7 separate regions of the Homo sapiens genome follow, and regions 1, 2, 3, 4, 5 and 6 are each reported to be linked to region 7. The links are microRNA targets in miRTarBase. Many come from high-throughput screens and were not tested one by one. Region 7 holds a microRNA gene; each other region holds the end of a gene's coding sequence.
Evidence for each region. Region 7 holds the annotated microRNA hsa-miR-302a-3p (UAAGUGCUUCCAUGUUUUGGUGA, at 2,800-2,822, opposite strand). A microRNA usually pairs through its seed, bases 2 to 8, with sites in the 3' UTR of a target mRNA and lowers its output. Matches are read on the target gene's strand: a 7mer-m8 pairs with bases 2 to 8, a 7mer-A1 pairs with bases 2 to 7 and ends in A, and an 8mer does both.

Region 1 (4,078 bases), not on the chromosome of region 7:
CAGAGTAGATAATGCGGCAGTTCTATCTATAAATGCCGTACGTTTCAGTTATGGGAATATACCATTTCCTTGGGCTTTTTCTTCTGCTTTTCTTTCTGCCATAAAGTGATGTGATGATCGTCATAAGAGGTTATCTCTCATTACTAATTAGAAAAACCTCAAAAACACACGTGCCTTTCTGACAGGTTACTGGCTTCAGCTTTATTTATATGAAAGACAAGTTTCTGACAAGGCTCACACACATGAAATATTATCTTTCTTGCGCTTTCCTTTGTTGTGAATGTTGTGGAAATGCCCAATGTTTGCGGATTACACGTTGAAAGGATTGCATAAAGAATGCCAGATTTCTTGAGCATGAATGGCATGTATAGCTATGAAACAGGGGCTTTTCTTTGGAGCAAGGGAGACTTGTAATAAAGCCTTTTCATGCTTATTCTTAGGATCCTAGTTCAGTTTCTGGGAAAACACCAGTCATACTCTATTACTAAAGCATAGCTAGGTCATTTGGAAACTGTAAACAGTAATACATTGCTTAATATGAAATAATGGTTCATTTCCTCCACTGGCCTCCTAGAGGCTTAGAAAACTCTTATACAGAATATGGTTCTCCTACTAACTAGCTTCTTATCTTGTTTTTCACAGTTATACACTGAAGTGTCAAACACAGTCAGATTTTGGGAAAGTGACAATGCAATTTGAATTAGAAGTGTGCCAGCTTCAAAAACCCGATGTGGTGGGTATCAGGAGGCAGCGGCTTAAGGGCGATGCCTGGGTTTACAAAAGATTAGTGGAAGACATCCTATCTAGCTGCAAGGTATAATTGATGGATTCTTCCATCCTGCCGGATGAGTGTGGGTGTGATACAGCCTACATAAAGACTGTTATGATCGCTTTGATTTTAAAGTTCATTGGAACTACCAACTTGTTTCTAAAGAGCTATCTTAAGACCAATATCTCTTTGTTTTTAAACAAAAGATATTATTTTGTGTATGAATCTAAATCAAGCCCATCTGTCATTATGTTACTGTCTTTTTTAATCATGTGGTTTTGTATATTAATAATTGTTGACTTTCTTAGATTCACTTCCATATGTGAATGTAAGCTCTTAACTATGTCTCTTTGTAATGTGTAATTTCTTTCTGAAATAAAACCATTTGTGAATATAGCAGGCTTCTCTTTTTTGTATTTGATTTTGATCCAAATAAAACCTCAAATGGCTTCCTGACTATTAAGTAGAGACTATTTGGAGTATGTTTTATCTGTTATCAAATATGCCTTGGGCAGAAAAACAGATAAGAATTCATTTGCATAATTTTTTCCTGTCTGATTTAAGTAGGATTTATTGAGATCGTTAACTGTCACAGCTGTGGTTACCAGAGTTAAACAACACATTTAATATGTTGAATAAAAGAGTATTGACTTTAAGTATGTTTGGTCAACAAATGATAAGTATCCGAACTATGAACCCCCCCTGAAATGTTACTTTATGGTAATTTCCCTAAGTCTCAATGTTGGCCCCAAATTTGTATTTTTATTTCATTTTATTGGTCTCCAAAGGCTAGAACTCAAGTTATATTGGTATGGATTTCACCAATTAAACTAGTTGGAGAAAAAATAGCACTCCTTCTGGTCAGTAGTGAAGGGAATGTTTTGTCATTCATTTATTCAATAAATGTTTACTAAGTGCTTACAAGCATTAGGTCCTCAGGCTGAAGCTGCTACTGTCTAGTAAACCCAAGGATTTACTAACTGTATTTGTAGCATAGCGGGACCCACCCACTTTGCATGGAATTAGAAATGAATTCTTGGAAGAAACAGCATTTGTCATTGAAGGATATATAGGAGTTCAGCAGAAAGAGAAGAGTGAGGAGTATGACTTTTTTTCTTTCTTTCTTTCTTTTTTTTTTGAGACGCAGTCTCACTCTGTCACCCAGGCTGGAGTGCAGTAGCGTGATCTCAGCTCACTGCAGCCTCGACCTCCTGGGCTCAAGCAGTCTTCCCGGTTCAGCCTCCCAAGTAGCTGGTACTACAAGCGTGCGCCACCACACCCAGCAAATTTTTTTACTTTTTGTACAGACAGGGTCTCACTATGCTGCCCAGGCTGATCTCAAAACTCTTGATCTCAAGCAGTCCTCCCACTTCAGCCCTCCAGAGTGCTGGGATTACAGGCATGAGCCACCACCCCAGCTTGGGACATGACATTTTTGAGAGAACAATATGTGCAAAGACAGGGAATTATAAAATGTCATTATGTGTTTGGGGTAGAAGCAGAAGGTAGTGGAAGCGGGAAATGACAGTAGATGAGGATTGAAAGTTTAGATGGAAATAAGTCATGAAAGTACTTGAATGCCCCATTAAAATAAGTGTTTTGGCAAAGGAGAGCTGTCAAAGGGTTTTTAATATTTTAACAACAGCTTTGTTACGATGTAATTCATATATCATAAGATTTACCCCTTTAAAGTGTGTACAATTCAGTGGGGGTTTAAGAGTGTATTCAGGTCGGGCGCCATGGCTTATCCCTGTAATCTCAGCACTTTGAGAGGCCGAGGTGGGTGGATCACCTGAGGTCAGGAGTTTGAGACCAGCCTGGCCAACATGGTGAAACCCCGTCTCTACTAAGAACACAAAAAAGTAGCTAGGTATGGTGGCATGTGGCTGTAATCCCACCTACTTGGGAGGCAGAGACAGGAGAATCACTTGAATCTGAGAGGTGGAAGTTGCAGTGAGCCGAGATTGTGCCACTGCACTCCAGCCTGGGTGACAGAGTGAAACTCCATCTCAAAAAAATAAATAAAATAAAAGTATATTCATAGTTGTGCAACCATCACCACAATGTAATTTTAGAACATTTTTATCATGTCAAAAAGAAGCCCCATACCTGTTACCGGTCACTCCCCATACCCCACCCCCCAGCCCCTGGCCACCACTTACCTACTTTCTGTTTCTATGAATTTGACTGGTGTATGTCATATAAATGGAATCATGCAATGTAAGACCTTTGGGGTTTAGTTATTTTTACGTAGCATAACATTTTCAAGATTTATAATGTAGCATATATCAGTACTTCATTTGATAACTGAATAATATTCCACTGTATGGATATGTGACATTTTATTTATCACTTGATAGACGTTTGGATTGTTTCCACTTGGCTATTATGAATGCTGCTGTGAATGCTTATATACAAGTTTTGTGTGGACATGTTTTCATTTCTCTTGTATATATACCTAGGAGCAGAATTGCTGGGTCATTTAACATTTTGAGGAACTATCAAACTGTTTTTCCAAAGCCACTGCACCATTTTATGATCCTGCCAGTGATGTACGAGGGTTCTAACTTTTCCACATTCTGTCAAACACTTGTTATCTGTTTTTTTAATTTTAGTCATCCTAGTGGGTGTAAAGTGGTATGGCATTGTGGTTTTGATTGTCTTTTCCGTGATGATTAATGATGTAGAGCAGTTTTTAATATGCTTTTGGCCATTTGTATATCTTTCTTGGAGAAATGTCTGTTCAGATCCTTTGCACATTTTAAATTGGGTTATGTTTTTATTGTTGAATTGTAAGAGTTCTTTATATATTCTAGGTATGTCTGTTACCAGCTATATGATAATATATATAATATATGATATGCAAATGTTTTTTCCATTATGTGGGCTTTTTAACTTTCTTGATAGTGTATTTTGAAGAACAAAAGTTTTCAATTTTCTGAAGTCCAATTTACCTATTTTTATAAAATATAGAGGTATGATTAATCTTCTATCCCTATGGGAAGTGGCGTGGTTTGAAACAATGATTCTCAAAAGTTTTTGACCCTAGCCACAGCAAGAAACAAGTACACATGATGGAAGCACTTGTAGTGTGTTAGTAGTATCTATCTCATTTGCTTTTAATTTACGTTTCCCTAATGACTTTGGGATCCATCACATATAAACATATATGAAGCACTGCTTAGCCTTACTGTAAGTGACAACATATTCTATTTTCTCTTATAAACATCTAGTCTGACAATTGTAATCTTTAAATTAGAGTTCTTTAGCACATTTACTTTAAAATCCTTTTGGGGGATCAGGTTTATT
Region 2 (4,078 bases), not on the chromosome of region 7:
GTCCCCTGCAGCACTCCAGGGAGTGTGTTGGGAAACCACTCTGAGATCCAGTGCCACCCACCTCTTCACTGGCATCTGTCCCCACCTCCACAACCTGTGCATCCCTCCACCTCAGAACCGCCCTTAGGGCCCGCCCCCGCCCCCATCAGGTCACACTGTTTCCCAATCCAAGTCCTTGTTCCCTTTGCTCATCCATTGAGGTTCATCCCAGGGAGAACCTTCTCTTCCCACAAAACCTTGCCTGACCTTGGTGTCCACTGTGCCACCAAATTGCACTGGATGGCCCTCCTGTGGCCCCTCCTTCCCAGGACGTGTTAGTGAAGCTCCTGATTCGATGGTCAGTTTCTCCAGCACCGTGAGCTCCCCGAGGATAGGCACTGTCTGTGCTCCTCCAGTGCCCGGCACGCAGTAACCATTCTATTTACTCGATGAAGGACGTGCCCATGCAGAACCCCCAGTAAGAGCTTGCAGGACGTAGGAAGGGAGGCAGCTCCTTTTTCGAGGAGGCTGGAGGCCTGTGTGGGAGGGGGAGCTGTACTTTCCTGGGTTAGCAGTGACCTGTGACTCTCCCCTTCCCACTGTGGGTCCTGCCTCTAATGCAGGCCCCTCAGCGTTGGTGCCAGGCCCTTGTTATCCCACTGGGATATCGGGAATGGATGAAGGGGCAGTGGATTTCAAAGTATTTCTTTTTTTCTTTAGATGCAAGATGTTGCCCCCAACCCAGATGACCCGGAAGATTTCCCTGCGCTGTCTTGAAAGAGCCCTGTTTCCCAGCACCGCGGAGCTGCACTGCACACCTGTGGGGAGACTTTTCCAGCTGGGCCAAGGGAGTCAGACTCTAAGAACAATAGATGTTGCTTTTCCCGTGTCATGTAAATTTGTTGCACTTTTTTGGGCTGAGCTGTTAGAGGGGCTTCTCCAGAGGCTCGAGAGCAGGCCATTTCCCAAGAAGATGAAGAATGGTGACTGTGTTTTTATTGAAGGAATTTCAAATGAAGAATAATGTTTAAAATGTGTATATAGAGATAGTATAGACTCCTCCGCGGAAGCATGGAGGGAAAGGAGGTTGTAAAATAGACTCCATGGAGACTCTTAGGAAGCAGTAGATTCCCGGGGGCTGTGCCTTTAGCGTTAGAGGAAACACATAGAGCTGGAACTGTTAATGGAAAGCAGTCACAGCTGAGTTTTCGGAGACCAAGAAATTAAAATACAATTGCACTTACTGTTTACTTGTAAATGTTATCTTCTCTCCTGGAATATTTTGAGTTCTGGTTTTCACTTAACCAATCATTTAAAAATCGCTATTGTGTAGCCACTGGCCACCACTCTGTGACACAGAATCAGAGAAAGCGTTGATTTTTAATGGTGATTTAAACTACCTCGTGGTTTCTGTGTGTGTGCACACACACATCTAGTGTTTGGGTGGTTTTTAGGAAGAATATTAAGTATGTGACTTCAAAAACCATGTTATTTAACCTGCCAATCAAATGGAAAGGGATCATGGCAAAAGCAAATACCGCATCCTTTTCTTCCGCAGAACTAGAGTCAGAGTTCGGCAGCTGCGTACAAAGGCCTCTGCCCTCGGCTTGAGCAAAAGTTGTAAATAACTAGTATTTATTAAGCACTTATAAGCAGTTTTTCTCACTTAGTCCTGGCTCCAGTTCTAGAGTTCCTCTTTATTGCTTTTGGTGAAAGTTTGGGGTTGGGGGTACACCTCAGAGGTTCAGTAATTCACCTGGAGTCCCACCCTGAACAGAGCTGGACCCAGAGCCACACACGCCCGGGAACACACACTGTGCTGGGGAGGAAGTGGGCCTAGGAGGGCCTGCAGGTCCAGGCAGCTGTAGAGCTGCTAGAAGCTGGGGTGTTGCTCTCCCCGCTTTCTCATAGACACAGAGGTACTGTCTGCCTGTTGTCACACAGTTCATATGCTCGCTTGAGATGGAATCTGAACCTTGGTCCCAGGATCTGTGCTTTTTCCCACTTTGCCACACTGTCTAAGGTGGCTTTGAACTGGAACCCAAGTGCAAATAAAGGTTGGTATTCGCTCCTGACTTTGTGTAGAGAAAACAGTCCTTTGGTTACTCCAGGCCACAGCAGTCGGTCATGATTTTGTTGAATAATCAAAGTTGAATCCATACACGTTAGGGTCAGTTAAGGATGTTTGCTTTGGGTGATAGCCTACTTTTGGTCTCTTATTTATTATCTGAGTACTAAGGTTTATCAACTGAGTGTTTTCTTCCCTTTCCTGGAAAAGGCAATGGATGCAAGTGCCCTGATTTCTGAAATCTGAACCTAGCCGGTACAACATCAGGGCTGTGTCATGAGTCAGTGGCTTTGAAGCTGTCACACTGTCATTTTGCCTAACTGCGGCTTTGAAGATTAGCCAGAGAGCCCTTTGAAGAAACTTTCCTTTAGTGTTGTGAATAATACTTGAAAAGCCCACAGCACTTGGTTTAATGTTGCAGTTGCAAAAACACTGACAGTTCCTATCCCATAGAGCTGTTGAGTCATGTGGTTGAAGACAGTTTTGGGGAACCCGGTGCACGTTCTGAACCTGTAATGGGCTATGTTTGCTTACCAGGGCTAGCTCTCGCTGACTTGGTCGTGTGCCTGGATGTAGGCATTTTGTTTGCACCCTTTCTGGATCGTGCCAGGTTGTACATAGCCCCAAGTGCCCCAGAGAAGCCAGGGAGGACAGAAGCGAAGGGCAGGGGGGTGTCACCAGCATGCCGTTGGGACAGTCAGATGCGGAGGCGGCAGGACCTTTTGGACCACAGTGCCCCGGCCGGACTCCTCAGGTGCTTGTGACGTGGGTGTGGACATGTCCTGAGGCAGGGCACCCTGGGCACCACGTTTCTGGCTGGCGACTTAGACTCAAGCAGATTAACCCCATGAAAGACGCCGATGAGGGCTGTCGTCCCCAAGTCTCCTGAAAAGTGGAGGTCAAGCAAGTTTGAGCTGGTTATAGCCAAGCCCAGGCTGGACTGGATCATGTCTGAATCAGGAGTTGACTGCTAGGCCTCAGGGGTGTCTGAGTTGTGCCACCAGGGCGGCTCCTGAAGACTCAGCTCAGGGTGAGGTCCTGGGGCTGCTGCGCACAGCCTGTCACCAGGTGGGGAAAGCTGCCCTGCAGTAACTGGGCTGGGGGGCCAGATCCTCTAGAGATAGGGGTGCTTGGCTGGGTGCGGTGGCTGACACCTGTAATCCCAGCACTTTGGGAGGCCAAGGCAGGCAGATCACTTGAGGTCAGGAGTTCGAGACCAGCCTGGCCAACATGGTGAAACCCTGTCTCTACTAAAAATACAGAAATTAGCCGGGCGTGGTGGCAGACGCCTATAATCCCAGCTACTCAGGAGGCTGAGGCAGGAGAGTCGCTTGAACCTGGGAGAAGGAGGTTGCAGTGAGCCTAGATCGCGCCACTGCACTCCAGCCTGGACAACAAGAGCAAGACTCTGTCTTTGGAAGAAAAAAAAATTTTTTTAAAAAGGGAGGTGCTGCCCAAGAGGGAGGGGTCAGTACCTAACTTGGGATGAAAGCCTAAGCTGCATGTCAGACCAGCCTGGGAAGAGGCAGGCTGGACACACTGCTGCCGGCTGGGAATGCCTCCGAAGTCAGAGTTGGATGCTTTGAACAAGACCCCTCTAGCCTAATGTTGCTCATGAGCCTTTGGCGTTTTCATTCCACGCAAGGTGGGCCCCTCTGAGCCAGCCAGCCTCCTTCCTTGTGCTGGTCAGACTTCAGACCATTTCCTTCTGTTGATCAGCAAGTCCATGCCATTCCAGCACATGGGAGCTTCACGGGAAGGAGACTGCTGTCCTCTGAAACTGTACTGTGCGGTGCTGGCAGGTGCTTCGGAGCAGCTGAGCCTGCGTCTCCGAAGCTGGGAAAGGCAGAACAGGAGCTGCCCGTGCCTGCCCTGTTCTCAGCAGCAGTGGGCCTGCCTGCTCTCTCCACATGGCGGCCTCCGCTGTAGACACAGAAGACAGATTTGCTCATTTTCTTTGGCTGCTGCTGTCTCCTCTCAGCCTTCTGCAAGGACCGTGGCCCATGTGAACAGCCTTCCCTGAACCCTCCC
Region 3 (4,078 bases), not on the chromosome of region 7:
CAGGCTTTGGGTGTGCATTCAGGTCACCTCTCCGGCTTCTCCACCCTTCCCCTGTTCCTAAACAGCCAATACATCCTGCCGCATAGCAGGAGGACTCTAGCTTCTAGCTTCTAGCTTCTAGTCCTGGAGGGGATAGTAGGGATGAGGTTTCCAAACAGAGTGACTGGGAAACAGTCTCTGTCCCCCTATCTCCAGGTCTCTGTTCCCCTCCCTCTGGATTTCTGTCTCCCTCCAACTCTGGGTCTGTCCTTCTCTCTCTGAGTCTCTGTCCCCCTCTCTCTCTGGGTCTCTGTCCCTCTCTCTCTGGGTCTCTGTCCCCCTCTCTCTCTGGGTCTCTGTCCCCTTCTGTCTGTGGGTCTCTGTCCCTCTCTCTCTGGGTCTCTGTCCCCCTCTCTCTCTGGGTCTCTGTCCCCTTCACTCTCTGGGTCTCTGTCTCTCTCTCTGTCTCTGGATCTCTGTCCCCCCTCTCTCTGGGTCTCTGTTCCCCCCCAGGTCTCTGTCCCCCCTTCTCTCTGGGTCTCTGTCCCCCTCTTTCTAGGTCCCAGTTTTCTTCTCTCTGGATATCTGTCCACCCTCTCTGGGTCCCAGTCTCCTTCTTGCTGAGCCTCTTGCATCCTCTCTCTTGGGGTCACTGTCTGCTTCTCTTTCCCCTCGTGGGGGTCTCTGTTCCCGCTCCCGGCCATCTGCCCTCTTCCCCCTTGCCCTTGGATTTCTCTCTTTTGCTCTGTGCCTCTCCTCCCTCCTGGCCTCAGTTCCTGTCTGTGTCTCCTCTTTAGGTCTCTGTGCTGGAGTCCAACCTGTCTCTTGTCACTGTGAGGTCCGTCTCCATTCTGTCCCTAAATCTGGCTTTCTCTCCATTTCAGAGAGAAGTGACTACCTAAAGCTTCTATTAATTTCAACCATTATCAAACTCCTCTCACCATCTGTACCTTCTCTTTAGCTGTATGAAAAGGTGCTCAGATGAAACCAGGGGTTTCCACACTGAATTCCTGAGCTGCATTTTGAGTTGCCAAGAGGAGGCGTGTTCTCCTCCAACCAGTTCCCTTCCCATGCTTCCCACTGGTGTCTCTAAGGAAGATTTATTTGACCCAAAAAAGGGGTGGGTATGGCTAAAAATAACAACAACAGTCTGTAAACCACTGGATAGGTTTTAATAAATTAACCCAAGTAAAGTACTTTGATACCAAAGGAAGCCCTATATGTGTTAGTGATTTCAGCCTTCTTCCTCTAAATGCCCTTTGAGTTCTGAAAGATTTCTGAAAATGTTCGGCCTTGTGACCTTGGGTAACACCTGCTGCTCTGAGCCTCAGTTTCCCCGTCTGTAAGAAATGAGGCTACGGGACTCAGGAGGACCCGTGTGTCCCAGCAGGCTGATGGGGACATGTGAAGCAGACAGACAGCCTGCCTGGCCCCTGGGGACAAGCTGTGAGACCTTGGGAAGCCACTCCCCTGCTCTGAGACTCAGGTTTCTCCCCTGGAAAACAGAGTGAGGCCCCCAGCCTGTCTGACAGCCTTCCTGAGCTGCAGGGAGGGTAGGTGACAGGCCTGGTTCAGGATTGTTCTGTGATTCTATGGAATAGACTGTACATCACTCTTGGGTTCAGGGGCACCAACTTTTTCTGGCTTTTTCTTTTCTTTTCTTTTTTTTTTTGAGACAGAGTGTTGCTCTGCTGCCCAGGCTGGAGTGCAGTGGCGCAATCTCGGCTCACTGCAAGCTCCGCCTCCCAGGTTCATGCCATTCTCCTGCCTCAGCCTCCCGAGTAGCTGGGACTACAGGTGCCCGCCACCGCACCCGGCTAATTTTTTTGTATTTTTAGTAGAGACGGGGTTTCACCGTGTTAGCCAGGATGGTCTGGATCTCCTGACCTCGTAATTTGCCCACCTCGGCCTCCCAAAGTGCTGGGGTTACAGGCATGAGCCACCGCGCCCGGCCTTTTCTGCCTTTTTCTATTGTGGTTCTCTTTCCCTGAGACTCTGTTGTTCTGTCTCCAACTCTGGGTGTCTGACGCTGCCCTCTGGGTCTCTGTCCCTCCCTCCCCCACTGGCTCTTTTTGTTTGTTTGTTGAGACGGGGGCTCCCTCTGTTGCCCAGGCTGGAGTGCAGTGGTGCAATCATGGCTCAATGCAGCCTCTACCTCTCAGGGTCAAGGGATCTTTCTGCCTCAGCTTCCTGAGTAGCTGGGATCACAGGCATGTGCCACCACACTCAGCTAATTTTTGTATTTTTTGTAGAGATGGGGTCTCACCATGTTGCCCAGGCTGGTCTTGAACTCCTGGCCTCAATCAATCCCCCTTCCTCGGTCTCCCAGAGTGCTGAGATTACAGGCATGGGCCACTTCGCCCGGCTTCTATCCCCTGCTCTTGGTCTCTGTCTCCCCACTCTGGATTTCTGTTCCTCTCTTCTGCGTCTCTGCCATACCCCACCCTCCAGGTCATTGTCTCCCTCTCCCTGAGTCTCTGTTTCTCTCCCTTTGGGTCTCTGTCTCTCTGGGTTTCCACCTCTTCCTTTTTCTGGGTCTCTTTCTCTATCCTTTTGGCTCTGTCCCTCTATCATGTCTGGACAGAGTACAGTTTTCTCCCCCTCTCCCCTTTCCCTTGTGGCTCTGACCTCCATGTCTGAGCATAAAACTGTAGGGGAGAATGGGAGTGAACAGCACAATGAAGTGGATGTGGGGTAAACAGGAGGAGCATCCACCTCTTCCTAATTTACCCAGTCGCCTCTGGATGAACACCCAATCCCATGGATACAGAATCCAGTCCCGCCCCCTACAGCGAGCTGGGGAGCCAGCTCGGCACACCTCCCAGAGCCCTCGCCACTGCATGCTCCCAGATACATGATGCTTCCCCACTGCTATTTCCTTTGGGTCCTGGTGCTACCACTAAATGCAAAACAGCCCGATGTGGCCCTATGGAACTCGTTCGCACAGTCCAACTCAACCCAACTTCCTGTAGGACTCACATAGTGACACAACTCAATGGAACTCAATTCAGCATGGCCCTATGAGACTCAAACAGTGGCATGACCCAACTGAACTGGCCTTACAAGGCTCATATGGTTGTACAATTCAACACAACTCAACTCGCTGTGGCCACGAAAAATGTCCAGCCACACACCTCTACACAGTTAAGCCCAACAGAACCCTACAAGATTCATTTGGTCATACAAACTTAACCCAATGTGACCTAGAAAGCTCAAATTCTACCACTGGACTCTTCACATTTCTACATGACTCGCAAGTTCACAGAACCTAAAATAACATGCCCCTGGAAGAATCACAGAGCTACACAATTTCCACCATGTCTCAACGAAACTTAACACCACACACATTCGATCTCAACAATGCCATGGGGGACCATCTAACTTGACCCAACATGGCCCTAGGGGACCCACCAAACCACAGAATCCTACACAATGCAGCTGGACCACACTATCCCAGACTCACAACCCAACCAAACCCAACACTGACCTAGGAAACTCACAAAATGATACGACCAAACCTATCTCAACACTACCCCAAAAGGCTCCATGAGCTTTGCACAACTCAGAGTAATATGAACCAATTGAGTCTTCATTAACACAACACAACCCATTGCCATTCGCTGCTGCTTCAGGAGGTACCCACAGGAGCTACCAAACCACACAACCCAAGACCCAACAAGACTCAGTGTTTCCCCACTCGTTACGACTTAACCTAGCTCTTCCTAAACCCAATCCCCTCCCCCCAGCCTTGCCCTCCACCCTGCCCTCCCTCCCTCCCTCTAGGGAGGTGTGAGGTCCTGCAGACCTCAACTGTTCCTCACACTTCGGTGACCAGGTGTTTCCCTGGGGGTGCCCAGAGTGGAGGTGGTAGCTCAGGTACCTCCCCGTCCACCAGCCCCCCATTGGCCTTGCCCTCCAGTGGGCCACAAGGCTGCATGTCCACATGGCTGAACATCCCAGCCTCTTCGCCCTCTGTCTCCCGGTGATAAAAGTAGCTGAAATTGGAGACAATGACGGGCACTGGCAGGGAAATAGTCAGCACGCCCGCAATGGCACACAGAGAGCCCACTATCTTGCCACCCACAGTGACGGGTGCCAT
Region 4 (4,078 bases), not on the chromosome of region 7:
ATTTCCTCTTTTGTGAAGTACCTATTCAAGTCTTTTGCCCATTTTTTTTCACTGAGTTGTGTTTTTCTTATAGATGTATAGGAATTCTTTATATATTCTGGATATGAGTCTTTTGTCAGCTGTATGTATTACAAAGATCTTGTCTCTCTTTGTGGTTTGCTTGTGTGTTGTGAGCTTTGGATTTTTACTGCCAGGTTAGTGGAACTGTACAATTGCTACCTGAAAAATGGGGGATCTGAACTGCTTTTGATCAGTGGTGGGGGTGGTTCCCCCACTGGTGAGGGTGAATTTGATACTGGTAAGGTGGACCTTATTGGGTCTCTGTCAAGAGTCTGCCACCTCTCAAAGAATTTGAGGACTGACCTTGTTCTTTTTTTGCTTTCAGGTCGTGGATTCACAGATAAAGTAGATCGACTAAAACTGGCAGAAATTGTGAAGCAGGTGATAGAAGAGCAAACCACGTCCCACGAATCCCAATAATGACAGCTTCAGACTTTGTTTTTTTAACAATTTGAAAAATTATTCTTTAATGTATAAAGTAATTTTATGTAAATTAATAAATCATAATTTCATTTCCACATTGATTAAAGCTGCTGTATAGATTTAGGGTGCAGGACTTAATAATAGTATAGTTATTGTTTGTTTTTAAGAAAAGCTCAGTTCTAGAGACATACTATTACTTTAGGACTGTGTAGTTGTATATTTGTAAGATGACAGATGATGCTGTCAAGCAATATTGTTTTATTTGTAATAAAATATACAAAAATCACTTGCCAGCAGTAGAAAAAGGACCGACTATACCGACCTTTCTGATTAGTAAACAGTTGAATCAAGGACTCTGGATTCTGGTTTCAATTGCCCTGTGTGTTTATTTTCCACACCATTGCTAGATTAGCTCTACTGCCAAGACATTTTTGTGGCTGTCATTGCAGACTGCTTGCTGGAACTCACAGGAGGCACACTTGAGCTTGGGGAGCCAACTTCCATGATGGAAGAAGAGGGAGGTGAGCCCTCATTTCTCCTGCCCCCTAATTCCCAAGAGAAAAGCAGGAACATTTCCTTTTTGTCATATCTGTTAAAAGGGTACTGGTGTGTTTCTTAAATCTAACAGGGTTTTCTTTTGGGTTTATTCTTTTTTTTTTTTTTTTTTTGAGACAGAGTCTTGCTGTTGTAGTGGAGGCTGGAGTACAGTGGCACTATCTCCGCTCACTGCAACCTCCGCCTCCCAGGTTCCAGTGATCCTCCCACATCAGCCTCCCAAGTAGCTGGGATTACAGGTGCCCGCCACCACGCCTGGCTAATTTTTGTATTTTTAGTAGAGACAGGGTTTCACCACGTTGGCCAGGCTGGTCTTGAACTCCTGACCTCAGGTGATACGTCTGCCTTGGCCTCCCAAAGTGCTGGGATTACAGGCGTGAGCCACTGTGCCCGGCCTTGGGTTTATTCTTTCTTTATATGTTTGTTTGTTTGTTTGTTTTGAGATGGAGTCTTGCTCTTATCACCCAGGGTGGAGTGCAGTGGCACGATCTCGGCTCACTGCAACCTCTGTCTCCCAGGTTCAAGTGATTCTCCTGCCTCAGCCTCCCAAGTAGTTGGGATTACAGGCACCCGCCACCATGCCCGGCTAATTTTTGTATTTTTAGTAGAGACAGGGTTTCACCATGTTGGCCAGGCTGGTCTCGAACTCCTGACCATCCACCTCAGCCTCTCAAAGTACTGGGATTACAGGCATGAGCCACCAAGCCTGGCCTATTCTTTATATGTTTAACCGGAGCTTCCCTTTCCCCTTCCAGGAGGTCCTGCTTTGTCCTTTCCCCTTCCCTGCAGCCTTCACCAGCTCCATTACTCCTTATTTCTGTTCCCTGTTCCTCTGGTCCTGTTTTTGGAATAACTTGTCCGAGAAATTTACATATAATTAATTGAAGTGGGACTATTGGATTATCATGTAAGATGATCCAGTTTTGGTTTTTTTTTTTATAAGGCTGCCCTGTTTCTCTGTAATATGTCTGTCTGGGTTTTGTGTTGGCATCCTCTGGGCTGCATTTATCTTGTTTATTACCCTTCATTTTCAGGAAGCATGGTTTTGGCCCCGAGAGCAGCTGTTTGAAGGAAAAATAAGGCTAGGTCCTTTTTTAGTTTTCTGTTGTGAGTATGGGTTTCCATAACAAACCAATTTTCGTGTATATGTGTGTGTGTGTGTGTGTGTGTGTGAAGCAGTTTTTGGTGGGTACTTACGTTGGTACATAGAAAAGCTGGCAGGTAGACTCCAGCTCGCAGAGCAGAGGGAGAGGATAGTCATCTGTTATTCAATTTTTTCTCATCTCATTCTCTTCGATCAAAATTGATCTCACCAGCAACTTATTTTCTAACTCCTCCACTGTGCTGAGTAATTCCTCCACCCTGAATCTTCAGGGTGACATTTGGTTAGTATGCCCTGTATGTGTGTGACTGCCTGTGGGAATAGATGATAAAAAACAAGTGTCTTAAGAATTACCTTATTACATTGCTTCCTTTTTTTTTTTTTTTTTTTTTTGAGATGGATTCTTGCTCTGTCGCCCAGGCTGGAGTGCAGTGGCGCGATCTTGGCTCACTGCAAGCTCTGCCTCCCAGGTTCACACCATTCTCCTACCTCAGCCTCCTGAGTAGCTGGGACTATACAGGTGCCCGCCACCGCGCCCGGCTAATTTCTTTTTGTATTTTTAGTAGAGACAGGGTTTCACCGTGTTAGCCAGGATGGTCTTGATCTCCTGACCTCGTGATCCGCCCACCTCAGCCTCCAAAAGTGCTGGGATTACAGGTGTGAGCCACTGCACCCAGCCTACATTGGTTCCTTTTTATCTTGGAGAATTTAATTGAAAGATATTTTTTGAGATAAAGTTCACTAATCTTAGGTGACTGATAACTGTTATAAATGGATTTCCTGTAAGGAGAATATGTCTCCCCCCCACCCCCCACCCTGCTGCCACCAAGACAGAGTCTCGCTCTGTCCCCCAGGCTGGAGTGCAGTGGCTTGCTCTTGGCTCACTGCAACCTCTGCCTCCCAGGTTCAAGCGATTCTCGTGCCTCAGACTTCCAAGTAGCTGGGACTACAGGCACACACCACCACGCCCAGCTAATTTTTGTGTTTTTAGTAGAGACGGGGTTTCATCATATTGGCCAGGCTGGTCTCAAACTCCTGACCTCGTGATCCGCCCACCTCGGCCTCCCAAAGTGCTGGGATTACAGGCGTGAGCCACCGTGCGCGACCTGAATACTTTTCATGATGGCAAAATCTCACCGGCAACAGAAGAAAAACCAATGTTTTTAAATTTACTGACCAGAAAACTTGACTGAGAGTTGAATTAAGTGCCTGTTGTTGTGTTTTTCAGTGAAATGCAAATCTTACAGATCACTTCTTACAGTTAGGAATACTGCACTTGTTTGTGTAATATTAGAACAACTGTAGTTTTCCTATCTTAGGGCAGAGGTTCAGTATTCCATGGGGAGAAAAAAACAGTAATTATCTTTGTTACTCTTCTTCTTTAGAGGAATATTCTAGCATATCCATTATATCCATAACTTCTTAAATTTGTGACTTGGGTGTCTTCTAAAAAGGCTCAGGATGATTATTTTTTCCTTCAGTGTATGCTGAATTTTAGGTGCGATGGAAAAGGTATCCAAAGTGATACTCCCTTTGACTCTGAGCATCAGTTGCCCGTGTTTCAGTCACTTCAAGCTGAATTCATGCCCTCAATGTAAGTGCTGTGTCCAGACACATCCAAATGAGCACCAAGCTGGAAGTTTGTGAACACTCTGGAGGATGCCCCAGCTGTTGTAATGCAACAGCATACCTTGAAAAAAAACAGTAGCTCCCAAGGGACTCAGCATGGCTTGGTCTTCGAAGTGGAGTTTTGTTTGTGTATTCCTAGTCCAGCAGTAAATTCTGCTTTAACATAACTGTCAGGTTTGCTACTCGAAATTTGCACATAACTGGAAGTGAAACGATATCTTTCTCATATTTTTTGGCCTAACAAACACCTATACCTGTGGAAACATAACACTGTAAATATAATTCTTATAAAGCAGCAGGTTATGCTCT
Region 5 (4,078 bases), not on the chromosome of region 7:
ACCCGGGCGGCAGAGGTTGCAGTGAGCTGAGAGCGCACCACTGCACTCCAGCCTGGGTGACAGAGCGAGACTCTGTCTCTAAATAAATAAATAAATAAAATAATAGCACTTAGCTGCTGTGGAAAACTATATGACGGTTCTTTGAAAACTTAAACATAGAATTACCATAGGATCCCTCAATTCCACTTCTGGGAATATACCCAACAGCATGAAAACAGGGACCTGACCAGATATTTGTACAGTCATGCTCATAGCAGCATCGTTCACCATAGCCAAATGGTGGAGGCAACCCAGGTGTCCATTGACAGATGAACGGATAAGCAAAATGGTACGTGTACCCACAGGGAATATTATTCCGCCTTAAAAGAGGAAGGAAATTCTGACCCATGCTGTAACAAGGATGAACCTTAAGGACATTCTGCTAAGTGAAATAAGCCCGTCACAAAAGGACACATGCTGTATGATTCCGTTCATGTGAGGTTCTTACGGTGGTCAAATTTATAAAGATAAGGAGCAGAGTGTTGGTTGTCAAGGGCTGGGGGAGGGAGAATGAGCAGTTCATGTTTACTGGGTACAAAGTGTCAGTTTTGCAAGAGAAGAGTTCTGTGGATGATGGTGGTTGTGCAACAATGTGAATGTAATTCCACGAAACTGTTCACCTAAAAATGGTTAAAAAGGCAATTTTAGGTTATGAATATCTTACAGTTAAAATCTTTAATTAAAGTCCTTTCAAAGCCCAACCTTTGCAGAAAAAAAATTATAGCACCTGAGCCCTTTTTGGTTTGCAGAACATTTTCACACACATAGTCATACATGCTTCAACGACGGCCCTGTGATAAAAACATTTATTAATTTGGCTTCCCAGAGGAGAAAACTAAGGTTCAAATGGGGTGAAACGGCCAGGTGTGGTGGCTCATGCCTGTAATCCCAGCATTTTGGGAAGCCGAGGCAGGTGGATCTCCTGAGGTCAGGAGTTCGAGACCACCCTGGCCAACATGGCAAAACCCCATCTCAACTAAAAATACAAAAATTAGCCAGGTGTGGTAGTGCACGCCTGTAGTCTCAGCTACTCAGAAGGCTGAGGCACGAGAATCACTTGAACCTGGGAGGCACAGGTTGCAGTGAGTCAAGATCGCTCCACTGCTCTCCAGCCTGGGTGACAGGGACTCTGTCTCAGAAAAAAAAAAAAAAAAATCCAGGTGTGGTGGCTCACGCCTGTAATCCCAACACTTTGGAGGTCAGGAGTTTCAGATCAGCCTGACCAACATGGTGAAACCCTGTCTCTACTAAAAATACAAAAAAATTAGTCAGGCATGGTGGCGGGCACCTGTAATCCCAGCTACTCGGGAGGCTGAGACAGAAGAATAGCTTGAACCTGGGAGGCGGAGGTTGCAGTGAGCTGAGATTGAGCCACTGCATTCCGGCCTGGGTGACAGAGTGAGACTCCATCTCAGGGAAAAAAAAAAAAAAAAGATTCTGACAAAATGCCATGAAGATCGTTTGTAGATCTTGTCTTGCTAAAGTGGAGTTGGATTCAGAGGGTTGGGGGCGGGGTCTGAAATAGTTTCTAAGCAGTTCTCACGTGGAGCCAACGCTTCTGGTGCAAGGACCGCCATCCAGCAGCAAAGATCCAGTGTACTTTACTTAACAGACAAGGAAGCTAGCCGGGAAGGGAGTGACTTGCCCAGGGTGACAGGGCAGGGTGGCACATAGGAAGCTAAGGGCCAGGGAATGTGCATGCAGCTGTTTTGCCAAAAATCGGTCACCTTCTTAAGCTGACCCAGATAGTGTCCACTTTTTTAAATTTTTTTATTTATTTATTTTGAGACAGAGTCTCACTCTCGCCCAGGCTAGAGTGCAGTGGCACAATCTTAGCTCACTGCAACCTCTGCCTCCCGGGTTCAAGCGATTCTCCTGCCTCAGCCTCCTGAGTAGCTGGGATTACAGGCACACACCACCACGCCCGGCTAATTTTTTTTGTATTTTTAGTAGAGATGTTGGCCAGGCTGGTCTTGAACTCCTGACCTCAGGTGATCCCCCTGCCTCAGCCTCCCAAAGTGCTGGGATTACAGGCGTGAGCCACCGTGCTCGGCCTTGAACCAAGGTTTCTAAGATGCTCTTAGCCTCCTTGGATCTGGCCTAGCCCACCTTTCCATCTTAGCTTTTCTGCACAACCGCCCACAGCTAGCTCAGCCTACGCCTCAGCCAATCTGGTTCCCGACGATGCAGAGCCGGCATTGGCTGCAGAAGCCAGGCCTAGTCCTGTCCAGGGCCCCCTGGCCGCAGACAAATGCTACAGACACGGCTCGTAGCACATGGTTCTCTTTATTGTGATGCTCAGTGGAAAACATCTGTAAACCAGCTTACTGTAGTGGTGACAGCTGCAACACATGCTAAGGCACTTTTATTATATAAAAAAGGGGGTAGGGTGGGAGTTTCACTCACTCCTTTGTGACAGCAACTGGGACCTGAATTCAGAGCTTTGTAGGCATATGCAGCTTTTATATCACTTCATGATTTGAGAGTTTGTTTCCTTTAAAAAAAAAAAATGCCTTCTTGCCGTAAGTCTCAATGCAGCATATACAAAACAGTTAGGAATACAAGTAAATTCGGCAACCAGTGTAGACCAGTGAGGACGAGCTACTCTCTTCTAAACAAAGGCAGTGAGAAAGACTCGGAATTTTATCATTTATTACAAGAAAGGGGAAAAAAGAAAACCTTATTTTGCTTTCAAAAATACCTGTGCAGGTGGCAGATTTTTAAACTATACTGAGTCAACGGTGCAGGTAAACCACCCTCGGGCCCAGTCCTAGAGTAGACACAAGATCGCCTGGGAGGGCCGCTGGCCCCTCTAACGCTCTGGCTGTCAGACTTGGGACAAGTCCCTTAACCATTAAATATATTTGGTCCCCAAGAGTGTTGGGAGAAGCCACTGGAAGGCTGCTGGCCTTTCCAGCTTGACCCCGACAGCCTTGCTGTGGCAGAGGCAGGCTGTCCTCGGTAAAGGAGGGGAGGGGGCATTGCACTTGAGACATTTTAGAATCAGGAGGGAGACAGCGGACAGTGGCGCTGCCTGGGACAGGGTGGGGAGGAATCCACTCCTCCCCCCACCCCAGCCTTCTGTGCCCTGCACAGAGGTGGAGGCCCAGGGCCTGCTCCTTCTGGACCGCCCAGAGCCATGGGAGTGGGAGGCCCAAGGGGCAGAGGTGTGTGAGGTCACCACGTGTGATTGCAAACAGCAAAGAAAGGAGGAGGAGTGGGGGCGCTGGTGGCAGACGTCAGGGAGGCTGACGACTGCGGGGGCTCCGACTACCAAAAGGCCTCAGTCTGAAGAAAAATAGATTCATAGAAAACTCTGGCCCCTCCCCGGGGGCCTGCCCTGCTCGCCTCAACATCTTGTGCTTTTTGGCAAGAGAGGGCTGAGGAGCCTGCTGGTCGCTCTCTGCCTGGGCCCGGGCCCTGTCTCTTTGGTATCAGATTCTGAGCAGGGGAGGGAGCTGGAAGGGGATGCAGCAGAGGAAGCCAAATGCCCTCAACAACACCTGGAGGGAAACGGGATGGGGGGACGGGGCGGAGGGCAGGAGGAGGCATGTTCACAGCAGTCCCAAGAAGGTGGGGAGAGGCGTGCTGCGGGGTCTGGGAAGGGGAGGCTGTGGTGTCTGTCTGTCCATCCATCTCAGGCTGCAGGAGAAGAGGCTTATTCGGCAGGTTTGGCCTCAGCCCCATCCGCTTTGCCATCTACCTCTTCGTCGGAGCCATCCCCGGCGCCTTTCCGGGCCATTCGGCGGGGCACGACAAACGGCAGGTCCCCGCGCCTGGGGGCAGAGGTAGAAGCAGAGGGTCAGCGGGCCCGGCCAGGCCAGGGGCGGCCACAGCACAGCCCACACATCTCAAAGTGAATTCGAGAGGGAAACCAGGTGCCTGGCTGCTCCCACCAGAAAGAAGCAAAGTGGAGTCTTGGGAGCCACAGCTGAGCTAGACAGGACCACTCTCAGGAAAGCAGGCAAAGCTTCCCGCAAAATGTTTAGGTGTCGGACATCTTCACACACAACAGTAGCACAAAAACAGCTCAGGCAAA
Region 6 (4,066 bases), not on the chromosome of region 7:
TGTATAAATAAGGCATGGAGAGTTTAAGTGCCTAACCCAAGATCACAAAGCTGGTAACTTCTATAATAGTTAATGGATGAATAACAGTTGATTGGGAGTGATGCCTAATAACAGTTGATTGGGAGTAATGAAAAAGATGATATATCAAACATCTTTTGGAAGTGTACCTCCTTACCCATGTTACTAATATCCCCAAAGTTTATTAACATCTGAAATCTGTTTACATAATCATGTATATATATGTTGTTTTTATGGGATACAGCACACATTTTCATAGGCCTATGTTTATTCTCAACTTTCTCATTCCATCAGTGTATCCCTGGATATCGGGCTGAGGAAGCAGTGGAAATGTTAAAGACCTTCTACAAACAAGAAAATCCAAATGGTCAGTTTTCTGTTGTGGATAATGTCCTTCCCTTAAATCCATACAAAGAGAATCTGCTATGAGCTTACCTCTTCATTTTCTTTTTCTTTTCTATTCTTTTCACAGCACCAAAATCGAAAGTTCGGAAAAAGGAATGTCAGAAATCTTGAACATGTTCTGATGAAAGAACCAAGTGACCCAAAGTGACCTGGACAAGATTCATAGACTGAAAGCTGTTGACATCGTTGAATCATATGTTTATATATTGTTTTTAATCTGCAGGAAAATGGTGTCTCTCATCATTTGCTCTGTTAAGGGAACAAATTAGCACTTTTTAGAAGTCTGACAATTGTAAACAGTTATTAGCTTTTCCAGAAGCTGATTCCCATTTTAAGATGGGGGAAAATTAAGGTTTGAGGTTTTAGAAATTAGCAAGTAGTGCATACCCTTCTAGCCACAAGTGCCCAGTCCAGGCAAGTGCTGACTTCTTAGAGAATGTGTGGCCAGACCCAGGGACCTGGAGTGTGTTTGGACTGCAGTTTGCCACCCTGAGAACACCTTCTCCAGGACTGGCATTTCAGAATCAGATTCTTCATTTTTTGCAGCTACGATGTTCTTCCAGGGCACTGGGGGCTGTGACTTCTCTCTAAATTGTATATAAGTTGTGTATATAGAGACCATAATTATATGGTCCTTAGAAAAGACTTTGCTTTTATAAAGCATTTAGAAAAAATGCATACTTTTAAAACAAGTGCTTGAGTTGTCACTTAAAAATTATAGCATATTGCTATAATAAAACCTTATTTATGTCTTATTTGAAGATGAATAGTCTTAAAAGATAAAGACATAAATGGGACAATTGTTATTGAGCAAAAAACCAAATTATCCCACCCTCATGGAGCTTATATTCTAGCAAGGGGAGATGGATATGATAGATTACACAGTTTATTGGAGGACAATAAGAGTTATGGCAAAAAGCAAAAGGAACACAGGGTAAAGGGGATAGGTGCCATTTGGTGGTGAGAATGCTGACTGAAAAATAGAATGATCAATTTAATCTGAAACAAATGGTTATTTCTTTTATAATCCATATAATAAATTTAAAATCTAAAATGTAAAATTTTGAACACAACACTGGAAAGGGTATCCACAGCAGGAAGTCCCCAGTTCACCTCCATGACTACAGGGCAGCTTTGCACAGCCCTCTGGGCGCACTGTGTGCCTCTGCCCAGAAGGGGGCCTCGCCGTTCCACCAGAAGCTCAGCTCCAGGCCCTGGAGGGGCTGCTGCTCCTCAGTTGCATTTCTTCAGTAGATTCATTTCCTTGATGCAAAGCATCTGTATTTGTTGGTTCTGTCATTTGAGCGATGTCTCTGACTTGTTTGTTTTGAATTACATTACAGGCTGGAATGTAATTGTGGTGAAAGTATTTTTATATTGCTGAGAGTAGCAGCTAATCACAGTTACATGCTTCAGAGGACTTATAATTGCTTGGTTTTGTGTGTGTGTGTGTGTGTGTGTGTGTGTGTGTGTGTGTTTAACTGCATTTGAAAAGTTTTATGGAGAATATGCATGATTTTAAATCTGTGATAATGTTACATGCACCTTCAATTTCATCCACTTTAAAAATTATCTTCTCATTGAATTTTAGTGCTTCTACTAGTTTGTTCCTTTTTGCAGTTGGTCGTAATTCATTTCTGGCTTCTTATGCTTTCCTGCAAGCAGATTTCATTGCATTTATTGTGTTCATATCATTTTCTTGGGGATTATTTGTAGGACAACCAACCTGGAGTTTTGCCTCTCTAGAGTACCACCCAGTAAGTCTGGCTGAGCATCTTATGTCCAGTAGGTTCTTGGTAAACATTTGCTAAATGAAATTACTGATTGAAATTTGGGGAAAAGTGAATAAGAAGACTATCTAGGACAAAAAGCCAAAGCCGAAAATAGTATATGAGCATTCTAGCCCAGAGACTGTCGCTACTAAAAGAATGAAGGAAATAATAAAGTGATAGACAGGGAAGGATAGAAAAGACTTAACAATATACATATGTTCCGTCTTTGCTGTTTTGGAGAATGATGGATAAGTAGTGTTTCCTGATTCTGAAGCATAGCTGAACAATTTAATTGTGGTTTACCATCTTTTTGGTTCCCTCTTCAGTAATTAACCTATCGAAAATCTGTCCTAAATGTTTGGACTGGGGCACAGTTCCCTCCATCGCTTTGGGAGAAAATCATTAATATGGCATACTGCAGATTGGAGGGCAGGACCACTGAGGGTGTCATAGACATTAGCTCTATGGAATTCTGCTAGCAATTTCCAAGTGACAGTGAGGAATTATGGATATATGTTGAGGTCATTCAGCTTCCTGAGTACCACATTCCCCAGCTACTTAGACACGGGTTAAAATATTAAGATGTCCTAGTTCAACAGCTTGAATTCCATTGATTGATACTGATAGTGCCTGTCCAAGACACCAGCTGAAAGACTTGTTTTGTGTACAAAATAGTTCTGAAAGTGGTGAGATACAAAAAGGTTTTAGAATCACTGCCCTGTTGAGAGAAATTAGGGGGAAATGATTACATTTAGAAGCTGCTAGAGTTATCCAGTGTTTGCTGGTCTTTGCAACAAACTGTGGAGAATGGGTGGTATGTAATGCTTTGGTAGGCTTCAATCACTGATAAAAGATCATGTTAAAATATCTTTGTGCTTTCTTGTTACTTGGCACAACCATCTCTTCCTGTGTTGTATTTGGAGTATCATGGAGAGAAAATAGATGGCCAAGAGCTTCAGTGTAGGCAAGAACTCTTAATTTTTCTTTAAACTTTTTACTGGGAAAAGTATATATATATAAAATACACACACACACACACACACACACACACACACACACACACACACAAACACAACACACCATGGCCCTTTACCCCGAAATGCTTCAGTATAGTTATTGACTTAAGTAAATTTAACATTGATATACTTGAATCTATCATTTGTATTACAGTTTTGTCAGCTGACCCAATAATGTCCTGTAAAGAAGTTCTCCCACTACCCTATAATCCCAGGTCCAGTCTAGGGTCCAGCATTACATTTACTTGTCTTGAATCCAGCTTTTTCTTTTTTTTTTTTTTTTTTGAGATAGGTCTCACTCTGTCGTCCAGTGGCATGATCACAGCTCACTGCAGCCTCAACCTGGCTCAAGCAATCCTTCCTCCTCAGCCTCCTGAGTAGCTGGGACCACAGACTCATGTCACCACACCTAATTTTTTTTTTTTTTTTTTTTTGTAGAGACAAGGTCTCACTATGTTGCCCAGGCTGGTCTTGAACTCCTAGGCTGAAGCAATCCTCCTTCCTTGGCCTCCCAAAGCACTGGGATTATAGACGTGAGCCACTGCACCGGTCTGCCTTTAGCTTCTTTTAGTCTAGAACATTTTCACTGGCTTTCTTTGTCTTTTATGACATTGACATTTTTAAATAATACAGTCATTTTGCCTCCTTTCTGTTTTCTTCTTCTTTTTTTAAATAATAGAATGGTCCTTGTTTTAAATTTATTTGATATTTTCTTGTGATTAGATTCAGGTGCTGGTTGATGTTAAGTTCCTCACAGGATATCACATCTGGAGGCACACAAAGGCCGTCACACCAAGGTGATGTCAATTTTGGTCATCTGGTCAAGGTGTTGTCCTATTCCTTCACTATATAGTT
Region 7 (4,000 bases):
AAATCAAAGCTTTTAAGTATTTTGGGATTTAATTGCTTCAATAACCATTCATCATGTGTAACTCGAGAGTGCTATACTTTAGTTCATACAAGAAGGCATTTCACCTAGCTCAATGTTATTTTTTGTTTCATTTTTTTGAGGCAAGGTCTATCTTTTTTCCCTAGGCAGGAATGCACTGGCTCCATGTCTGCTCACTCCAACTTCTGCCCCCACCTCCACCCCCTCAGCCCCACCCAAGCGATCCTCCATCAGCCTCCCCAGTAGCTGAGAACACAGGCAAGCATCACCAGGCCGGCTTTTTTTTCTGGCATTTTTAAGAGATATGGGGTCCCACCATGTTGCCCAGGCTGGTCTTGAGCTCCTGAGCTCAAGAGATTTACCTTCACCCCTGAATTGCTGAGATAAGAAGCATTGAGCCACCATCCCCAGTTGCTAAATTTCAAATAGCCAACCTTGTGCTTGTTTCTAATAGGATGGGATCCAGATGTCCTCTTTGAATGTCTGGGTATTGCTAATAATTTGTGTTCAAATCTTAATCTGCAGTTACATACACTAAAATGTGTCATTTTAGGTCGCCAAATATGCAATGCCATTTAGACCCTCATACAGTTTTTTTTTGTTTGTTTTGTTTGAGTCTCTTTCTCCCAGGCTGGAGTGATCTCAGCTCACTGCAACCTCTGCCTCCTGGGTTCAAGCGATTCTCCTACCTCACTCTCGAGTAGCTGGGATTACAGGCGTGCACCACTACACCCAGCTAATTCTTTGTATTTTTAGTAGAGATGGGGTTTCACTATGTTGGCCAGGCTGGTCTTGAACTCCCCCATCCACCCGCCTTGGCCTCCCAAAGTACTAGGATTACAGGCATGAGCCACCGAGCCTGAGGGCCTGAGGGGCAGGTTAAATTGTACCAAATTGAATTAATCCTGCTGATACACTAACATATTAACTTTTTCATTTTCTTTAGATGTTGATATATCACTACTTGTGTCTTTTAACAAAATGAAAAAATTGACTACTGATGGGAAGTTAATTGCCAGAGCATTGAGAAGTTCAGCTGTTGTAGAGGTAAGAATCAAGAATAACTACTGTTTATATTTATAGTTTATAATTATAAAGAATGTTAACGTAATGATTATTATATGATTATAGCTTACAATTATAAATAATATTAGTTTTATTAATGTAATATACTATTTTAAAGCTTGATTTGGAAGGCACCAGAATCCGGAGGAAAAAACCTCTGGGGGAAAGACCAAAGGATGAGGATGAACGCACAGTGTATGTGGTAAGCTTAAGAACCCGGGTCCCCAGTCAGAAACTGGCACAGAAACAATATAATTAAGTTAAAAATTTATTGACATTCTGATTGTGAAAAACTCTAATATTGCTTTTAATTTATAATAGGAGTTACTTCCCAAAAATGTTAATCACAGCTGGATTGAAAGAGTATTTGGGAAATGTGGCAATGTTGTTTATATAAGTATACCACATTATAAGTCTACTGGAGATCCAAAGGGATTTGCGTTTGTGGAATTTGAAACAAAAGAACAAGCAGCAAAAGCAATTGAGGTAAGTCCAGATCCTAAAAAAAAAAAAAGAAAGAAAAGAAAACAAGTATTAAAATAGTAACTTTTGCAATCATTTCAGTTTCTTAACAACCCACCAGAAGAAGCACCAAGAAAACCTGGCATATTTCCTAAAACAGTGAAAAATAAGCCCATTCCAGCCTTAAGAGTTGTGGGTGAGTATTTTTCAATATTTAAATAGGTGTAGTTGAAGTAAGATGAACTAATAATGATGGCACTTTTACAGAAGAGAAGAAAAAGAAAAAGAAGAAGAAAGGCCGAATGAAAAAGGAAGACAATATCCAAGCCAAAGAAGAAAACATGGACACAAGCAACACCAGCATCAGTAAAATGAAAAGATCCAGACCCACATCTGAGGGCTCTGACATTGAGTCCACTGAACCCCAAAAGCAGTGCTCAAAGAAAAAGAAAAAACGGGACAGAGTTGAAGCATCTAGCTTACCTGAAGTCAGAACAGGGAAGAGGAAGAGAAGCAGCTCTGAAGATGCAGAATCCCTAGCTCCCCGATCAAAAGTAAAGAAAATTATTCAGAAAGACATCATTAAGGAAGCATCAGAAGCTTCCAAGGAAAATAGAGGTAAAACTACAAGGTTTTAATTAGATAAAACTAATTAATTTTAATTAATTAGTTTTTAATTAATTAGGTTTTAATTGGCTTCTGTTTCACCCATTTCACAGCCCCATGTCTTAACGGAGAGCTTTTTTATTTATTTCAAGATATAGAAATCTCTACTGAAGAGGAAAAGGATACTGGAGATCTAAAAGATAGCTCTCTCTTGAAAACAAAAAGGAAACATAAGAAAAAACATAAAGAGAGACATAAAATGGGAGAAGAAGTTATACCATTAAGAGTGCTATCAAAGTAAGTCTGTGGTTTAAATTCTGTCATTGGCTTAACAATCCATCACCATTGCTAAAGTGCAATTCCAATTTATATTCAACAGAGTTGCATATTAGCAACAGTAATGGCCTGTAGCCAAGAACTGCACACAGTGTGGGCGTTAACGCAATTGCTGATTAGGTAGGAACCACCACACTCAAACATGGAAGCACTTATTTTTGTCATGTCACAGCAAGTGCCTCCATGTTAAAGTAGAGGGGGCCCCTTAACAGATGTAAAAATACAAAATAAAGCTTAAATATATGAGCTGCGGTCAATACAATAAAGTTATTTTCTAAAAAAATAATAAAAATGTAAAAGGAAGACTTACCATCACCAAAACATGGAAGCACTTACTTCTTTAGTTTCAAAGCAAGTACATCCACGTTTAAGTGGTGGGGAGCCCAGTCTTGGAAAAAGTTAGAATCCTTTAACCTGTAACAAGCTTAGTAACCTTAAAACACAATAACAAAAAAATTTTGTAACAAAAGGTGTGCTGGCTTGGAGACACCTCCACTGAAACATGGAAGCACTTACTTTTGTTTCACACAGCAGGTACCCCCATGTTAAAGCAAAGGGGATCCCTTCAAATGAGGTTAGCGTGTTCTATTTTGGAGAAGTAAATTGGATTCACTCCTACTAAAACATGGAAGCACTTACTTTTAAAGTCACAGAAAGCACTTCCATGTTAAAGTTGAAGGGAGCCCACCCAACATACAACTTCTTTGGACTTCAGAGTATTTAGAGCTGAGGAGAAAGAAAACAAAATGGCATAACTTTAGAAGAAAAAAATTTTTTTACCTTCCTGAACTAGTTCCCAAAGATTCGTGTTCTCCTCCAGAAGGGTAAAAGGCAGGGACTTCAGCCACTTCTATTTATACTATTCTTAACTCTTGAATTCCTTTTGCCTTTTTATCTCAGAGAATCATTACAAGGGCCTTTTGTTATTTTAATGTATCAGCTCTCAGGGAATGTATGATCCTGGGTGGGTCTGGATCCTTTTTTTTTTTTTTGAAGTATACAGATGTCAATGTTAACAGCTAAAACCATTACCACAAGATATCTTCCTCTTAAAAAAAAAAAAGAAAAAGAAAAAGAAAATCTCCTATCTGCTTGTTTGATGGCATAGATTAGGGTAACAATGAGTGCTCCCACTGAGCCGAGAAAGGCATTGTGTTTCTATCTGGAGGAACTCTGTTTGAAGAAGCATCTACATGTTAAATGTATGTAAATAAATAGATTGCTTCCACGGGGTGTTTTGTTCTACTTAGAAATTCTTTTTGATTCAAGTAAATACTAAGGAATGTTATCTCTCAAATTGGAAGCAGTTTAACAAATCTTTAATCTCGCCCTTTTCCCACAGAGATGACTGATTTAGTAAATGTTACTAGTTAAGGAATTAATGCTAAAATTTTACTTTTATAAATTAAAATACTTCAGACACTCAAAAATTTAATTGGCAATCTTAAAACATTTAATCTGAATATTGGGGGAAGAGGAACTCCCTTAGCTTATTTTGCTAAATGTCTTTAGA

Region 1: miRTarBase lists MELK as a target of hsa-miR-302a-3p. The part of its 3' UTR that is shown has no 7-base or 8-base seed match.
Region 2: miRTarBase lists HABP4 as a target of hsa-miR-302a-3p. Seed matches in the 3' UTR shown: 7mer-A1 at 1,216-1,222 and 8mer at 1,621-1,628.
Region 3: miRTarBase lists KCNA7 as a target of hsa-miR-302a-3p. Seed matches in the 3' UTR shown: 7mer-m8 at 1,895-1,901.
Region 4: the mRNA of MAPKAPK5 is a reported target of hsa-miR-302a-3p. The part of its 3' UTR that is shown has no 7-base or 8-base seed match.
Region 5: miRTarBase lists MYH9 as a target of hsa-miR-302a-3p. The part of its 3' UTR that is shown has no 7-base or 8-base seed match.
Region 6: miRTarBase lists ADAT2 as a target of hsa-miR-302a-3p. Seed matches in the 3' UTR shown: 7mer-m8 at 691-697.

What each region holds. Positions count from the first base shown.
Region 1 is chr9:36,676,518-36,680,595 of GRCh38, forward strand. It overlaps MELK (maternal embryonic leucine zipper kinase), which reads left to right. Exons shown (of 18, transcript NM_014791.4): 18 at 643-1,165. The coding sequence ends at 820. Among named protein-coding and RNA genes, the nearest start is that of MELK, 110 kb to the left of the region's middle.
Region 2 is chr9:96,489,283-96,493,360 of GRCh38, forward strand. HABP4 (hyaluronan binding protein 4) reads left to right here. Exons shown (of 8, transcript NM_014282.4): 8 at 700-2,054. The coding sequence ends at 756. It also overlaps a transcript of CDC14B not described here. Among named protein-coding and RNA genes, the nearest start is that of HABP4, 41 kb to the left of the region's middle.
Region 3 is chr19:49,066,267-49,070,344 of GRCh38, forward strand. KCNA7 (potassium voltage-gated channel subfamily A member 7) reads right to left here. Exons shown (of 2, transcript NM_031886.3): 2 at 1,131-4,078. The coding sequence ends at 3,797. Among named protein-coding and RNA genes, the nearest start is that of NTF4, 3.5 kb to the left of the region's middle.
Region 4 is chr12:111,892,582-111,896,659 of GRCh38, forward strand. MAPKAPK5 (MAPK activated protein kinase 5) reads left to right here. Exons shown (of 14, transcript NM_003668.4): 14 at 386-4,078. The coding sequence ends at 480. Among named protein-coding and RNA genes, the nearest start is that of MAPKAPK5-AS1, 52 kb to the left of the region's middle.
Region 5 is chr22:36,278,971-36,283,048 of GRCh38, forward strand. It overlaps MYH9 (myosin heavy chain 9), which reads right to left. Exons shown (of 41, transcript NM_002473.6): 41 at 2,310-3,815. The coding sequence ends at 3,698. Among named protein-coding and RNA genes, the nearest start is that of MIR6819, 5.9 kb to the right of the region's middle.
Region 6 is chr6:143,424,931-143,428,996 of GRCh38, reverse strand. It overlaps ADAT2 (adenosine deaminase tRNA specific 2), which reads left to right. Exons shown (of 6, transcript NM_182503.3): 5 at 313-385; 6 at 491-4,066. The coding sequence ends at 534. Among named protein-coding and RNA genes, the nearest start is that of ADAT2, 24 kb to the left of the region's middle. RefSeq lists an enhancer at 1,459-1,528.
Region 7 is chr4:112,645,387-112,649,386 of GRCh38, forward strand. It overlaps MIR302A (microRNA 302a), which reads right to left and starts at 2,865; the gene lies at 2,797-2,865. LARP7 (La ribonucleoprotein 7, transcriptional regulator) reads left to right here. Exons shown (of 13, transcript NM_016648.4): 3 at 965-1,065; 4 at 1,202-1,285; 5 at 1,405-1,569; 6 at 1,648-1,741; 7 at 1,813-2,163; 8 at 2,304-2,448. MIR302CHG (miR-302/367 cluster host gene) reads right to left here. Exons shown (of 3, transcript NR_146092.1): 2 at 3,127-3,213; 3 at 1,334-1,582. It overlaps MIR367 (microRNA 367), which reads right to left and starts at 2,555; the gene lies at 2,488-2,555. It also overlaps MIR302D, MIR302C and MIR302B. RefSeq lists an enhancer at 3,485-4,000.